4 linked regions of the Homo sapiens genome follow. The protein of the gene in region 1 purifies or fractionates together with the protein of each later gene. This does not show direct contact. Each region holds a gene or a part of one and is shown in the gene's direction. Other genes may lie near its edges.

Region 1 (2,877 bases):
CTGGCCAGAAGTAGGAGGTCCTTCAGGTTGGAACAACCAAAGATAAATGGAACCACGTTAATACATTAGAGCCACAGGGAGATTCCAGAACAGCGCCAGGGGCTCCTTCTCAGGGTCTCAGGAAGGGTTGACACATGGCACCGTGCACAAGTCATCAGCCAGGTGCTGGGGATAAAATGACAGGTATGACTGTCAGACATGGTCCCTTCCCCTCGCAGCCTGGAAGTTGCAGAGGAGAGGGATTAGCAAAGGCAGAGAGACCCCAGAGACAGCTGCTGGGAGCAAGGCGGCCGGGGCCCTGGGGAGGGGACAGAAGAGGCCCAACGTGAGGGAGGGGCACAACCGAGGGACGATTCCTGCCACCTGGCCAGGGTGGTGAGGAAGGCACAGCCCTATGGAGCTGGATGCCGCAGTCTCAGTGGGAGCCACTGTGGCAGCTGAGAGCAGCTTGTTCCAAATTACTGTGTGAGACTGTCATCTCTAGGTCTGTCAGAGGCCCATGACCAAAGAGGCAACTTAAAATGCATGCATTTAGTAGAGAAATGACCAGGCCCTCGGCCTGCCCGCCACAGAATGCCTGGCCCTCCACCCTCTGTGGGCTCAAAGCTCGTGAATGCGGCTCTGTAGCCCACCGTCGGTGTCATACCTCTCATGGAGACGGCTCCCTCTTTGTCTTGCAGGGGATGAGCTGACCAAGATGGAGGACGAGGATGAGCAGGGCTGGTGCAAGGGACGCTTGGACAACGGGCAAGTTGGCCTATACCCGGCAAATTATGTGGAGGCGATCCAGTGATGAGTCGGGGACAGGCCAGCGGGGGGACGGAGGCGGCGGGCCCAGGAGCCTCAGCCAGCCACGTGGGCATCCACTCCTTTTCCTGCAAGAGATGATGGTTCCATTGCTCTTGGCTTCATGGTGTTCCTGGAAGGCAGATGAGCTGGTCATTTCGCCTGGGACTCGGCACCTTTCCGAGTGCAGCTGGAGGGATCTGAGCGCAGGAAGACGCAGAACAACAGAAATAGCCGCCCCTCCCCGCCCACTGTGCCTGTTGGCCTATCATAGATCTCTATGTTCTTGACTTTGTCTCTCCTTTCCGAGTCAATGGTGGGTTACACTGATCTTGTTCCACTGATTACTCTCTCTGACGAGTCCATCACCTGCAACTTAAATGAACAAGCTTACATCCCATTTTGAGTGAAGATTTTGAGGTTTTTAATTTAAAGGCTGTGTACAGTTATACTTTTTTATACACCTGTTCATTTCTACTTAAATTATGGCACAGATTGATGCGCACCAGTCTTGAGGAAACGATCTCCCTATTCCCTTACCCTGTTACTCAGCCACGCCGTGTGTAGGCTTAGCCTCAGGTGGCAGATGTTTGAGGAAAGGAATTATGCCAGGAAGGTGGGACCGGGTTATGGTCGGGTTTCTATTGGGAATGCTCTTTGTGCTTTTGGGCATCTGAATGGAAGCTTTACATAGAACCTTAGGTAGAACTCCCCCAAATCGCCATATTTAAAAATTATTTTCACTCTATTCTTGCTTAAAACTGTACTCTTTTGCAAATTAACAATTTTATCACTGATTCAGAGTTAAAAAGAAGACTAACTTTTCAAGCAAATGCATCTGTAAAGATGCTTTAGATTAGACTGTCATGTCTCAGTGTCTATCTGTATATATTATTTGATATTCAGAGAATCTAAAGCACTCGTCTACTGTTTTAATGAGATTTAACAGCTTTTAACAGTGAGTTTCGTTTGTAAACTGCTTGAAGTCTGTGGCATTCAGGCACACGTCTGGCTGGCCGGCTGGGTCTCCTCCCGGGCTCAGTGGGCCTGGGGCCTCTCTGACGTGGTGCCTGCTGGAGGGAGGCTCGTCGTCACCAGCTGACTGCTGGTCCGGCTTCTGACCGGCCTTTGTCCTGGCTCCGTAGCAGAACACTGTAAAAGTGCCCGCGTCTTTGCAGTAGTTGCAGATTTCAGTCGTCGTGTTACTTGTGCACAAACAGAAGCTGGGTCTTACCCGCAGCACGAGTGTCTCGGGCTGCCCGGAGTCGCCCGGGAGCAGGTGCTGCAGCCAGAGTTACGCGGGGGCCACGCGGGCCGGCGGGGGTGGGGGGAACGTGGGGGAACCTGTGTTTCACGTGACTCAGCAGTGCCCGCCGCCGTCACCAGCTATGCATTCACTCCGTTTCCAGTGAGCAGATGTCTTGCTTGGAAAGTGGACCTGTGTCTGTGTCTGTCCTGAGAACTTACCAGCAGAAATCCTCATTTCTGTGCTACGGATTTACCAAAAATTGTCAAGTCTTTTTCAGTTTAACAGTTCCTTTACATGTGTAGTATTTGAGGAAAAAAATCAATAAACAGTTGATCTCGTGCATATGGAAGTCCCTTCGCCATCATCTGTCTTCATGCCCACTTCACTTGGCGGGGGTGGCCTCCCTGGGGCTTACTAGCTTTGGAGCTGGGCAAGATCCAGGGCACAGGACCCCTGCCCAAAAGGCCACGGCCCACTGCCCCTGCCAAACTGGAGGTTGGGGATTTGAGGCACCTGAGCCCCTTGGGGTTCCCTTCTCCCCGAGACCTGCTGCTGTTTGACCTGGGCTTCCACATGGTGCGGGCATCGGCTGGCGCCTCTCTATTGCCCCAGCCCAAACAGCAGGACAAGACTGACATCACCCATAACTCTCCTATGAGCACATTTTCCTGAGCACCTACTGTGTGCTCTCCACTTTTTACTTACATTATCTGCGTCTCCAAACATCTCCACAGGGTATGGGCAAGTCTCCCCATTTCCATTCTACCGAGGAGGAAACAGAGGCTCCAAGAGCCAGCCAGGGTTTCTTGAGGAGTCTCAGCCAGCCCAAAGCACTGAGCGAA
Region 2 (3,500 bases), on another chromosome or scaffold:
CGTGATCACTGCTCACTACAGCCTCAATCTCCTGGGCTCAAGCAGTCCTCCTGCCTCATCCTCCAAAGTGGCTGGGACCACAGGCACATGCCACCATGCCTGGCTAATTTTTTTCATTTTTGTAGAGACAGGGTCTTACTATGTTGCTCAGGCTGGCCTTGAACTCTCAGCCTCAAGTGAGCCTTCTACCTCAGCCTTCCACAGTGCATGAGCCACTGTGCCTGGCCTAGTTTTTCACTGTTACACTTTTTCTGCTGAGTGACACTCTATTTCCATTTTCATTTTTATTTTTATTTCTTTTTACTATAACAGTTTGTACAATAAACATCCTGAGATGTTTTCTTGTGCACACATTTTTCTGTTACACACTTATTTAGTTAGTTGCTGGGTAATGAAGTTTAGGTAATATTGCATTTATTATTCATTCTTCAACAAATATTTAGGGTGCTTGTATGGTCTTGGCTATCTGTTGACTAAAAAAGTGAAACTGATTAAATTCTAAGAAGATTACATAGTTGGCTGGATTATTTTTTTCTTTTTTCTTTCTTTGTTTTAATTAAGAAAAGTGGGACTGGTGTAGTGTTGCATGCCTGTAATCCCAGCACTTTGGGAGGCCAAGGCAGGAGGATTGCTTGAACTCAGGAGTTCAAAACTAGCCTGGGAAACATGGTAAAACCTCATCTCTACAAAAAATACAAAAATTAGCTGGGTGTGGTGGTGTGCCTGTGGTCCTAGCTACTCAGGAGGCTGAGGTGGGAGGATTGCTTGAGTCCTGGATGTCAAGGCTGCAGTGAGCCTAGATTACACCACTGCATTGCAGCCTGGGCGACAGAGTGAGACCCTGTCTCAGCTCCCAGCACTTTGGGAGGCCGAGGCAGGTGGATCACCTGAGGTCAGGAGTTCGAGACCAGCCTGACCAACATGGAGAAACCCCGTCTCTACTAAAAATACAAAATTACCCAGGCGTGGTGGCGCATGCCTGTAATCCCAGCTACTCGGGAGGCTAAGGCAGATGAATCGCTTGAACCTGGGAGGTGGAGGTTGCAGTGAGCCGAGATCCCACCGGCCATTGTACTCCAGCCTGGGCAACAAGAGTGAAACTCCAACTCAAAGAGAGAAAGAAAAAGAAAAAGTGGCTCTTCATTGTAAAATTGAAGCATGAGACAAATCCATGGTGCTGTTTGGGATTCTTGTGCAGAAACCTTTTCTCAGCTACTCACTGGCCGTGTGACCTTGGATTACTCACCCAACCTCCTCTTCCTCATTTCTTTGGTAAGATTAAGGGGTAGGAGTAAGCATTTACAAAGGCACATTCCTGTTCTAAGAGTCTGTGAAAATGTTGCTGTGTTAGTGACGCATTTTTACCCTAATGGTAACCACTCAGGCTGAAAGGAGTTTAAGGCATTTAAACACATTGGCGTCCTCATTCCTTCAAATTGCTGGGCACATTCTTTTTTTTTTTTTTCCCTAAGTTCATGTCAGACACATGTTACACATGCAATCATCATGCTCGTGAATTCTGCAAAAGGATCACCAGGCGTCTTGCCTCAGAGCCTTTGCATGTGCTCTTCCCACTACCTGGAAAGCACTTCTCTTAGACGTCTACATGGCTGTGTCATCCCTTCAGGTGTTATGTTGAGACACCTCCTTCCAGTCCAGCCTGCAACCTCATCCCTGCTTTATTTACCTCCAAGGCACTTACCACCTTCTAGCTTGCCGTGTATAGGTTGAGTATTCTTTATTCCAGAATGCTTGGGACCAGAAGTGTTTCAGATTTTGGATATTTTTAAAATTTTTGGAGTATTTGTATTACATGGTTGAACATTCCTGATCCAAAAATTTGAAGTGCTCCGGTGGGTCTTTCCTTTGGTGTCGTGTAGGTGCTCAAAGAGTTTTGGACTTTGGAGCATTTCAGATTCAGATTCAGATTCCTGGTTTAGGGATACTCAATCTATAATTTATATCAGTATTCTGTACTAGATTATGAGCTCTACAAAGGCATGGGGTTTGCCACTCTTGTTTACTGTTGTATTCATGGTGTCTAGAACAATGTTGACCCCTAGCAGGTAAACAGATGTTTGATGAACAAATGGATATGCTTTTTGTTGTTATTTTTTCTCTGTGGAATTTCGCCTTTAACACTTACTGGATATCCTAAATGGTGCTGGTATGTGCACCATATCTCATATTTACAGATTCCTTCAGGGTAAGAAAACTTATGTCTTCTAGGGAAACCACTCCTTTTAAATCTATGTGATTTATCCTATAAGCCACTTAATGTCTTCAGACTTTTTTTCTCCCAACATTTTGCCTAATCCTGAATTTAGAGGAAAACATAAGTAACACGGTGCTTGGAAGCACACCCATCTTTCCTTTTGTGATAACCTGGTTTCCAATGCGATGAATGTGGAAGATGCATAACCAGTAGATGCTGACTGTATTCCACACGACATCTGCAGTAACAGGCCAGCAGCCATCCCAAGCAACATGAAGCACACTGCATTTCTTTCTTTTTTCTTGAGATGGGATCTTGCTCTGTTCTGGAACTCCTGGGCTCAAGTGATCCTCCCACCTCAGCTTCTCAAATAGTTGTGTCTACAGGCGCGTGCCAACACACCTGCCTAGTTTTTCTTTTACTTTTTACAAAGACAAGGTCTCCTTATGTTTTCCAGGCTGGTCTTGAACTCCTGGGCTCAGAAGGTCCTCCTGCTTCAGCCTCTTGAAGTGCTGGGATTACAGGCATGAGCCACTGCCCCCGGTCCACACTGCGTTTCTAAGAACAAACAGTGTATTTTGTTGGATTGTTGCAGAGTGTACATCATCATTGCCCTGACTTTGTGCTTTTATCTATGAGGATTTTTTTGGAGGGGGAGGAGGGATGTATTTTTCATGATGGAAGGAAAATGAGAACCTTAATCTGAAGATGTTGGAGCAACTAATATGTAGAAAGGTCCCTAGATATACTCTAAGAATTGCCACATCGTACAGTCCTTAATTCATGGCACAAAAAACATTCACTATTATAGCACTAATGCATTGTTTCAGTAGAAGCCAACTGAATTTTTTCTACCTTGCATGATGAGTATAGGAGTTGACAAAACAAAGCTAAATATATCAGAGGCCTCTTGGATGCATTTTATATGGTGATAGGGAAAAGGAGTCTAGATTTTTTTTCCCAGTGAACTATATTAGGTATACGATACTGATGATATCCTTTAAAACATTACTAGAATACTGAAGTACACCATTTACATTTCTTATTGTATCCTCTGTAATAAAATGATATTGAAAGAAATCAGTATATTATGGATCCAGATAGGGTTAAACTTTAAGCTGAAAATCATAAACATAGAATTATATGATTATTAGTAAAATGTTGCACAATTTAAACAGATTTTTTTTTTTTTTTTTTTTTTTTAGACACAGAGTCTCACTCTGTTGCCCACGCGGGAGTGCAATAGGGTGATCTCGGCTCACTGCAACCTCCGCCTCTCAAGTTC
Region 3 (3,500 bases), 4.9 Mb from region 1:
CAGCTGAGGCTGGCCTGTCTGGGTGGAAGTGGTGGGCAGCTTCAGGGGACAGCAGAGGAGCATGAGCTCTGGAGTCAGATACAGTGGATTCAGTCCCACCCCGTGCTGGGGCGAGTGCCCTCTCCTCTCTAAGCCTGTTGCCTCATCTGGAAAATGCAGATAATGTGTTTGGAAGCATCATATCCATCAGCCACGAGGAGATAAATTGGTGCCCGGCAGTGCCTGTCCCAGAGCTGGTGGCTGCGAGGGCTGCGTGCTCCTCCCCTCTGCCTCCGCACTGCAGATCAGGGGCAGAGGAGGGGCCACCTCTCTTCCTCTGGCATTCCCAAGGTGGTTTTGCTGTGGGTGCCCTCATGGGGGCTATGGGGAGTGTGGGGAAGTGGAGGCAGCAGGCAGAACGCAAGGCGGGCGGGTTGGACTCGGGTGGCTGGATGCACCTCATGACTTCCGTCCTGCCGGGCGTTTGCTGTTCCCTGGGCCTTGGCCCTGTCTCGATGTGGAGGGCTTGGGTTTCTGGGGCTGCCTGCGGCTCTGTTGAGAGTGGAGCCGGGAGGTGGGGCTGGAAGCCCTTGTGGTGCTCCCCTTGTGAGGTGTCCTGGTGCTCGTCCGCACAGCTCTCCACGCCTCCCGCCTCTCGCACTCGGAGCCGCCCTCGGCCACACCATCGCCAGCGCTCAGCGTGGAGAGCCTGTCGTCTGAGAGCGCCAGCCAGACTGCAGGTGCAGAGCTTCTGGAGCCGCCAGCTGTGCCCAAGAGCTCCTCAGAGCCTGCTGTCCATGCCCCTGGTACCCCTGGAAACCCTGTCAGCCTCTCTACCAACTCCTCCCTGGCCTCCTCTGGGGAACTAGTGGAGCCTAGAGTGGAACAAATGCCTCAAGCCAGCCCTGGCCTTGCCCCCAGGACCAGGGGCAGCTCAGGTCCCCAGCCAGCCAAGCCCTGCAGTGGCGCCACCCCAACGCCTCTCTTGTTGGTTGGAGACAGGAGCCCGGTGCCTTCCCCTGGAAGCTCGTCCCCACAGCTGCAGGTAAAGGTGAGTGCCCCCTCACCCTCACTAAAAGTGACATCCTCTCTAGTGGATGCGGGTCTGGTCTCAGGGCAGAAATGTCCAGGGCCTTTTCTTAATTTTTTTGAGATGGAGTCTCTCTCTGTCACCCAGGCTGGAGTGCAGTGGCGCGATCTTGGCTCACTGCAAGCTCTGCCTCCTGGGTTCACGCCATTCTCCTGCCTGAGCCCCCAAGTAGCTGGTACTACAGGCGCCCACCACCACGCCCGGCTAATTTTTTGTATTTTTAGTAGAGTGGGGTTTTCACCCCGTTAGCCAGGATGGTCTCGATCTCCTGACCTCGTGATCCGCCTGCCTCAGCCTCCCAAAGTGCTGGGATTACAGGCATGAACCACCATGCTTGGCCTTCTTTTTTATTTTTTTTTGAGACGGAGTCTCGCTCTATCACCCAGCCTGGAGTGCAGTGGTGTGATCTCGGCTCTCTGCAAGCTCCGCCTCCCAGGTTCACACCATTCTTCTGTCTCAGTCTCCCGAGTAGCTGGGACTACAGGCGCCCGCCACCATGCCCAGCTAATTTTTTGTATTTTTAGTAGAGACGGGGTTTCACCGTGTTAGCCAAGATGGTCTCGATCTCCTGACCTCACGATCCACCCGCCTTGGCCTCCCAAAGTGCTGCAATTACAGGCGTGAGCCACTGCCCCCGGCTGTCTAGGGCCTTTTCTATCTTTACTGGCCTCTGACTTCCTGAGTGGCCTTGGCCAGTCTATCTACCCATTACCCACTCTGTCCAATGAGGCACAAACCCGTCTGTCCATGCTTCCATCCATCTGCCAGAGCTCCCACCTATCTATCCACCTGTCCACAAACATAGCCTCCCAGGTCTTATGTATCAGGGCCCCTGTTTGCCTCCCATCCCCTCCACTTGCCTATTTGGGTTCCACTCACCAGCCACCAGTCATCCCGTATTGTCTGTCCGCTCTTCCATTCACTCAGGCTCTACTGATGCCAGACCCTGGGCAGAGTTGTATTAAAACCCTATCCTGGCTGGGCGTGGTGGCTCACACCTGTAATCCCAGCACTTTGGAGGCTGAGGCAGGCAGGTCACTTGAGGATAGGAGTTTGAGACCAGCCTGGCCAACATGGTGAAACCCCATCTCTACTAAAAATACAAAAATTAGCCAGGTGTGGTGGCAGGCACCTGTAATCCTGGCTACTTGGGAGGCTGAGGTAGGAGAATTGCTTGAACCTGGGAGGTGGAGGTTGTAGTGAGCTGAGATGGCCCACAGCCTGGGCAACAGAATGAGACTCTGTCTCAGAAAAAAAAAAGACCCTGTCTTTGGCCTCCAGGGGCTCACGATCTGCTCAGGGAGATAGGCATAATGGGCATTTTGGAAGGTGACCTAGAGTAGAGCACAGAGGGGAGGGATTCACTCCCTTCTGCAGAGACCTGGGTCTCCCCGCCATGGAACAGGGGAGCTGGGGTCTCTGAATGCCTCCCATGTGCATGGCTGCCTGGGCTCCACAGGTCATGTGGACATAGTGGTCCCTGTCCCCAAGGCGCTCCCAGCCAGGTCAGGGGGAGGTGCTATAATGTACATGCTGCTGTGTGTGGAGTTTGTAGTGGGCAGGGGGTCAGCCCTCAACAGGCAGAAGGACCCAGGACACACAGCTTTCTTGGGTGCTTCTGTTGTGTGCCATGAGGGGTGTTTACCGAGGAGAGCAGACGTGGCCCTATCCTGTCCTCCTGCTCCCTTGCTGGGCTCTGTCTTTTCTCAGGTGACATGGGCGTGGGGAGGTTCTGGCTGGGCACCCATCCAGGCTGCTCCTGTTCCAGGTATGCTGTGTGCTGTGGGCTCACCTGTTTCTCAGCCCCATACTGAGAACCTGGGGATTGCCTGGGCTCAGTACTTTCCTCTGGGCACCCAGTTCATGAGGGCCCTGTCTTGCAGCCACAGCGCCTTTGGATGGCCCAACGCTCTGCAGGCCTCTGAGCTCCCAAGGCTCATCTGGCCCCAGGTAGAGGGTGGCAGGACAGCCTTTGTGGGGCAGCTGAAGTTGTAGCCTGACCCTGCCCATGTGCCTCAGGCATCGTTGAACCTTCCCTGGTCCCGGCAAGAGCCTCTTGGGCATTGATTCTGGCTCTGCCTCCCACCTGCTGTGTGTCCTTGAGCAGGCCCCATCCTCCTCTGGGCCTCGGGCTCCCACAGATGGTGAGGGGCTGGCGGCACCAAGTGTCCTGAGTGCTCGAAAGACCCCCTGGTTCCTTGGTGGTGGAGGGCACGGGGGTGGGTCACCTTCGGATTCTCGTGTTTCGTGTCCTGGGCTGCGTGAATATTGGTCTGAAGTTTTGGGGCTGAGAAAAGGCTGAAAACCTTTGAGGGGCTCAGGGGCTTTGGGCTGCTTGGCTCTGCTGGCCCCTCTGGGTGTGTTAGAGGGAGGGGGCAGAACCCCGGGTGCACTTGCTTGTGGGGAACCCCTGTCCCACTGTCACCCCAGG
Region 4 (4,265 bases), 5.2 Mb from region 1:
CTGAGCTCTCCCCAGGGGGGTGAGGTGAGGAACTGTGGGGGCAGGTGTTCTGGGGTCATATAAGCCTCAGCGTCCATCCTTTCCAAGGTCCCAGTGGTGCTGACGACCTTGACGCCCCCAGGTTTGAGCCATTGACCTTCCTTTGGCTTGCAGGTGGCTCTGGTGAGGGGCTTCAGTTCCTCCTGAGCTTGGAGAGCTCACTGCCTGCTCCCTTGTGAGGACTGCTAGAAATGCCCGCCTTGTTCTGAGCTAGCATTGGCCTCCCCCAGCCACCTTCAGAGGTTTGCAGGCTGTTCTCAGCCTTTCTCGATCTCCTCACCTTTGAGCCACCTCCAAGGAGAAGCCTTCTCTGCCTTCCTCCTTTCTCCACCTGACCTCCCATGATAGTAGGTGTTTCCTTCTTTTAAACACTGAACACAGTGAATCCTGGTTTGTCCCTCGAACCAGACCAGAGCTTTCTGAGTGAGAAATTGTATCTTAGTCATTTCTGTTTCTGCTCTGGGCACAAGCTTGTGTCAATGTAGGTTCTCAGCCAATCCTGTCTGAATCCAACCCCCAGGTGATCCCCAACAACTCTCAAAATAATCTAAGATTTCTGTGACCCTAGTGCCAAGCTCACCTGCCTACAAGTGTCTGAATCTAGTTTACCTTCCCTGTCTCATCACTGCACCCATCTCTCCTGGACTCCTGCTGCAACCTTCCTCCCTGTCCAGTGAATTTCGCCCTCCTCCTCCCATCCCAGTCGCCACAATTGGCAAATATCAACCAAAAGGAAAAAAGATGGGAAACAAGTTTTTTTTTTTTTTTTTTTTTTTTTTTTTAAGGCGGAGTCTCACTCTGTTGCCCAGGCTGGAGTGCAGTGGTGTGATTTCGGCTCACTGCAACCTCCGCCTCCCGGGTTCAAGCGATGCTCCTGCCTCAGCCTTCTGAGTAGCTGAGACTACAGGCGCACACCACCACGCCAGGCTATTTTTTTTTTCTTTTTTATACAAGAGTTTTGCTCTGTCGCCCAGGCTGGAGTGCAATGGCGCTATCTCAGCTCACTGCAACCTCCGCCTCCTCGGTAAGAAAACTGTCATGACAGAGAGGTTAAGACTCTAGTCCAAGGTCTGTGCTAAAGCCAGCCCAGCGGACTGTCGGCAGAATGAACCAACGGGAAAGAGGTCAGAAGGAGCCAGATCCGCCAGTGCCAGCCCTCTCCAGGGCTCCCTGGGGACCCCCAGCGGGCAAGGGCTGCAGGCGGCCCAGGCTAAACGTGCAGTGAGTCCCGCTCTCAGAGGTATCTGCGCCCCGCCTGCCTCCGCCCCGCCCCTTGTTCTGGTTTGTCCAGTCCCACAGAGTCCCACAGTCTTCATGTAAATGAGGCACCCAGAGAGAGCCTATGCGAGCGTGGCAGGGGCGTGGCCTTCCACCTCCCGAGCATCGCTCTGATTCATTGTTAAAATAAAGAGGCCATGACCCTGGCACTCCCACCCCGGCAGCCCCTGTGCGTGGAAACCCAGCCAAGGTTAGCACTGGGCCTCAGAAAAGAGGAGCTGGTAGGGGGAGGCCTACAGGAGGGGTAGGGGTCGAGGGATCCGGGGAGGAACTGGCTGAATGCCTGGATGGAGAGGGTCCCGGGTCCATTCTCTGGGTGGGGCATGTGTAGCTGCTTAAGGTTTTGATTATTATATCCACATCTCAAGTGCATTTTAGAGAAGGATTCTGCCTATTGGTTGTGGGTAGGGGAGGAAACGGGAGCAGCGAGGGGCACGTGGAGTAGAGCCCCCTACCCACCCCCAGGAAAATGAGCGGCGTTCTCCTGCTAGGCGACGCTCCTTTATGTGGCCAGACCAGGAGAGAAACGCCCAGGACGGGCGGGGCCGATGCGCCCCTCTTCCACCACCAGGAGTCGGGAGGACGACCGCCCGGGGAGGATCAGAGACCCTGGGGCCACGGAAGGACCAGTGGGTAGCCCTCTCCCCACCGTGCCTTGCTGTCGCCCCCACCGCATTCCCTTCTCCAGGTCTGATGATGGAGGAGCCTTGGCCCTGGCTGTCCCAGGGGAGGAGGTGAAATTCCTCAGCTCTCCACCAAGATTGGCCACAAAAGCCTGATCCCCTGGAACACAGCAGGTGAGGATGGATGTGGGCAGGTGACCTGGGGGCACCAAAAGCTGCAGGTGTTTTGGGATGTTGGGTTCCTCCCACCCCCCACCCTCCCCCTGGGGCTCTGTGTGAGTGGGGAGGCCATCTTTAAGTGATTCTCCTGACCCAGCTCCACTCCAGGGCATGGATGTTGGTGGCCTTAGGGGCACCCAGAAAGGAGAACCCTTGCACAAGTAAGATACCAGGGCGGCCGGGCGCGGTGGCTCAAGCCTGTAATCCCAGCACTTTGGGAGGTCGAGGTGGGTGGATCACAAGGTCAGGAGTTCGAGACCAGCCTGGCCCATATGGTGAAACCTCGTCTCTACCAAAAATACAAAAAAATTATCCGGGCATGGTGGCACATGCCTGTAATCCCAGCTATTTGGGAGGCTGCGGCAGGAGAATTGCTTGAATCCGGGAGGCAGAGGTTGCAGTGAGCCGAGATCGCGCCACTGCACTCCAGCCTGGGTGATAGACCGAGATTCTGTCTCAAAAAAAAAAAAAAAAAAAGAAAGAAAGACACCAGGGTTTCAGAAGGGTATGATGCTTCACACCTGTAATCCCAGCACTTTGAGGGAAGGAGGAGGATTACTTGAGGTCAGGAGTTCAGGAGTTCAAAACCAGCCTGGGTAACACTGCAAGAGCCTTTTTTTTTTTTTTTTTTTTTTTTGAGACACACTGTTGCCCAGGCTGGAGTGCAGCGGGGCGATCTTAGCTCCACTGCAACCTCCACCTCCTGGGTTCAAGCAATTCTCTTGCCCCAGCCTCTTGAGTAGCTGGGATTACAGGCATGCGCACCACGCCCAGCTAATTTTTATAGTTTTAGTAGAGACAGGGTTTCATCATGTTGGGCAGGCTGGTCTTGAATTCCTGGCCTCAAGTGATCTGCCTGCCTCAGCCTCCCAAAGTGCTGGGATTATAGGCGTGAGCCACCGCACCTGGCCAAGAGCCCATTTTTACAAAATAAAAAAGAAAAAAATTAGCTGGGCGTGGTGGCGTACACCTGTAGTCCCAGTTACTCAGTCCCAGAGACTGAGGCAGGAGAATCATTTGAGCCCGGGAGTTTGAGGTTGCAAGGAGCTATGATCGAGCCACTGCACTCCAGCCTGGGTGACAGAGCAAGACCCTGCCCCCACCTCCCCAAAAAAGACATTAGGGGCCGGATGCAGTGGCTCACACCTGTAATCCCAGCATTTTGGGAGGCCGAAGGGGGCGGATCACCTGAGGTCAGGAGTTCACCTGGCCAACATGGCGAAACCCCGTTGCTACTAAAAATACAAAAATTAGCCAGGCATGACGGTGCATGCCTGTGATCCCAGATACTACTGGGGAGGCTGAGGTAGAATTGCTTGAACCCAGGAGGCGGAGGTTGCAGTGAGCCGAGTGAGCCAAGATCACATCACGGCACTCCAGCCTAGGTGACAGAGAGAGACTTCGTCTCAAAAAAACAAAACAAAACAAAACGAAAACACATTAGGATTTCTTTTTGGCTAAGTTCTGCCACAAACTTGCTGTGTGACTTTAGGCTGTTCACGTTTGTCAAAGACGTCGTCCTCAACTCTGAAAATACCTGGCCAGCTTTTTGCCTCCCTCGCTGTGCTTCCCAAGGGACCTGTGCGAGTTGGCAGTATGATCCAGTGCTCCTCACTTCCACCTCCGAGAGAGCAGGGACACACACAGCCCTGGATTTGAATCAGCCACTGCGACCTTCAGTGACCGAAGGAACCTCTCTGAGCCTTAGTTGCCTGATCTAAAATTGGCATTAATTTGATCTACAATGCAGCTATAAGACAAGGACACTCAAACTTTGGGGCGCACTAGAATCACCTGGGGAATCACTTTTTTTTTTTAAGACAGAGTCTCACTCTTATCACCCAGGCTGGAGTACAGTGGTGCAATCTTGGCTCACTGCAACCTCCGCCTCCTGGGTTCAAGTGATTCTCCTGCCTCAGCCTCCCGAGTAACTGGGACTACAGGTGCATACCACCATGCCTGGCTAATTTTGTATTTTTAGTAGAGACAGGGTTTGGCAATATTGGCCAGGCTGGTCTCGAACTCCTGACCTCAGGTGATCTGCCCGCCTCGGCCTCCCAAAGTGCTGGGATTATAGGCGTGAGCCACTGCGCCTGGCCAGGAATC

Evidence for each region.
Region 2: the proteins of PACSIN2 (region 1) and RAI14 purify together in Homo sapiens (affinity purification with mass spectrometry; 3 studies listed by BioGRID and IntAct, with this or other methods). This does not show direct contact.
Region 3: the proteins of PACSIN2 (region 1) and MICALL1 purify together in Homo sapiens (affinity purification with mass spectrometry; 2 studies listed by BioGRID and IntAct, with this or other methods). This does not show direct contact.
Region 4: the proteins of PACSIN2 (region 1) and TRIOBP purify together in Homo sapiens (affinity purification with mass spectrometry; 2 studies listed by BioGRID and IntAct, with this or other methods). This does not show direct contact.

Annotation. Positions count from the first base shown.
Region 1 is NC_000022.11:42,869,273-42,872,149, reverse strand, and holds the end of PACSIN2 (protein kinase C and casein kinase substrate in neurons protein 2), read left to right. Parts: exon of another isoform or gene 1-165; intron 166-646; exon of another isoform or gene 647-680; coding exon 681-793; 3' UTR 794-2,377; downstream 2,378-2,877.
Region 2 is NC_000005.10:34,659,328-34,662,827, forward strand, and holds part of RAI14 (ankycorbin), read left to right. Parts: intron 1-3,500. UniProt on the Homo sapiens protein: Plays a role in actin regulation at the ectoplasmic specialization, a type of cell junction specific to testis. Important for establishment of sperm polarity and normal spermatid adhesion.
Region 3 is NC_000022.11:37,926,797-37,930,296, forward strand, and holds part of MICALL1 (MICAL-like protein 1), read left to right. Parts: exon of another isoform or gene 1-143; intron 144-159; coding exon of another isoform or gene 160-330; intron 331-614; coding exon 615-1,030; intron 1,031-3,500. UniProt on the Homo sapiens protein: Lipid-binding protein with higher affinity for phosphatidic acid, a lipid enriched in recycling endosome membranes. On endosome membranes, acts as a downstream effector of Rab proteins recruiting cytosolic proteins to regulate membrane tubulation.
Region 4 is NC_000022.11:37,695,583-37,699,847, forward strand, and holds the start of TRIOBP (TRIO and F-actin-binding protein), read left to right. Parts: upstream 1-1,465; 5' UTR 1,466-1,507; intron 1,508-2,005; 5' UTR 2,006-2,114; intron 2,115-4,265.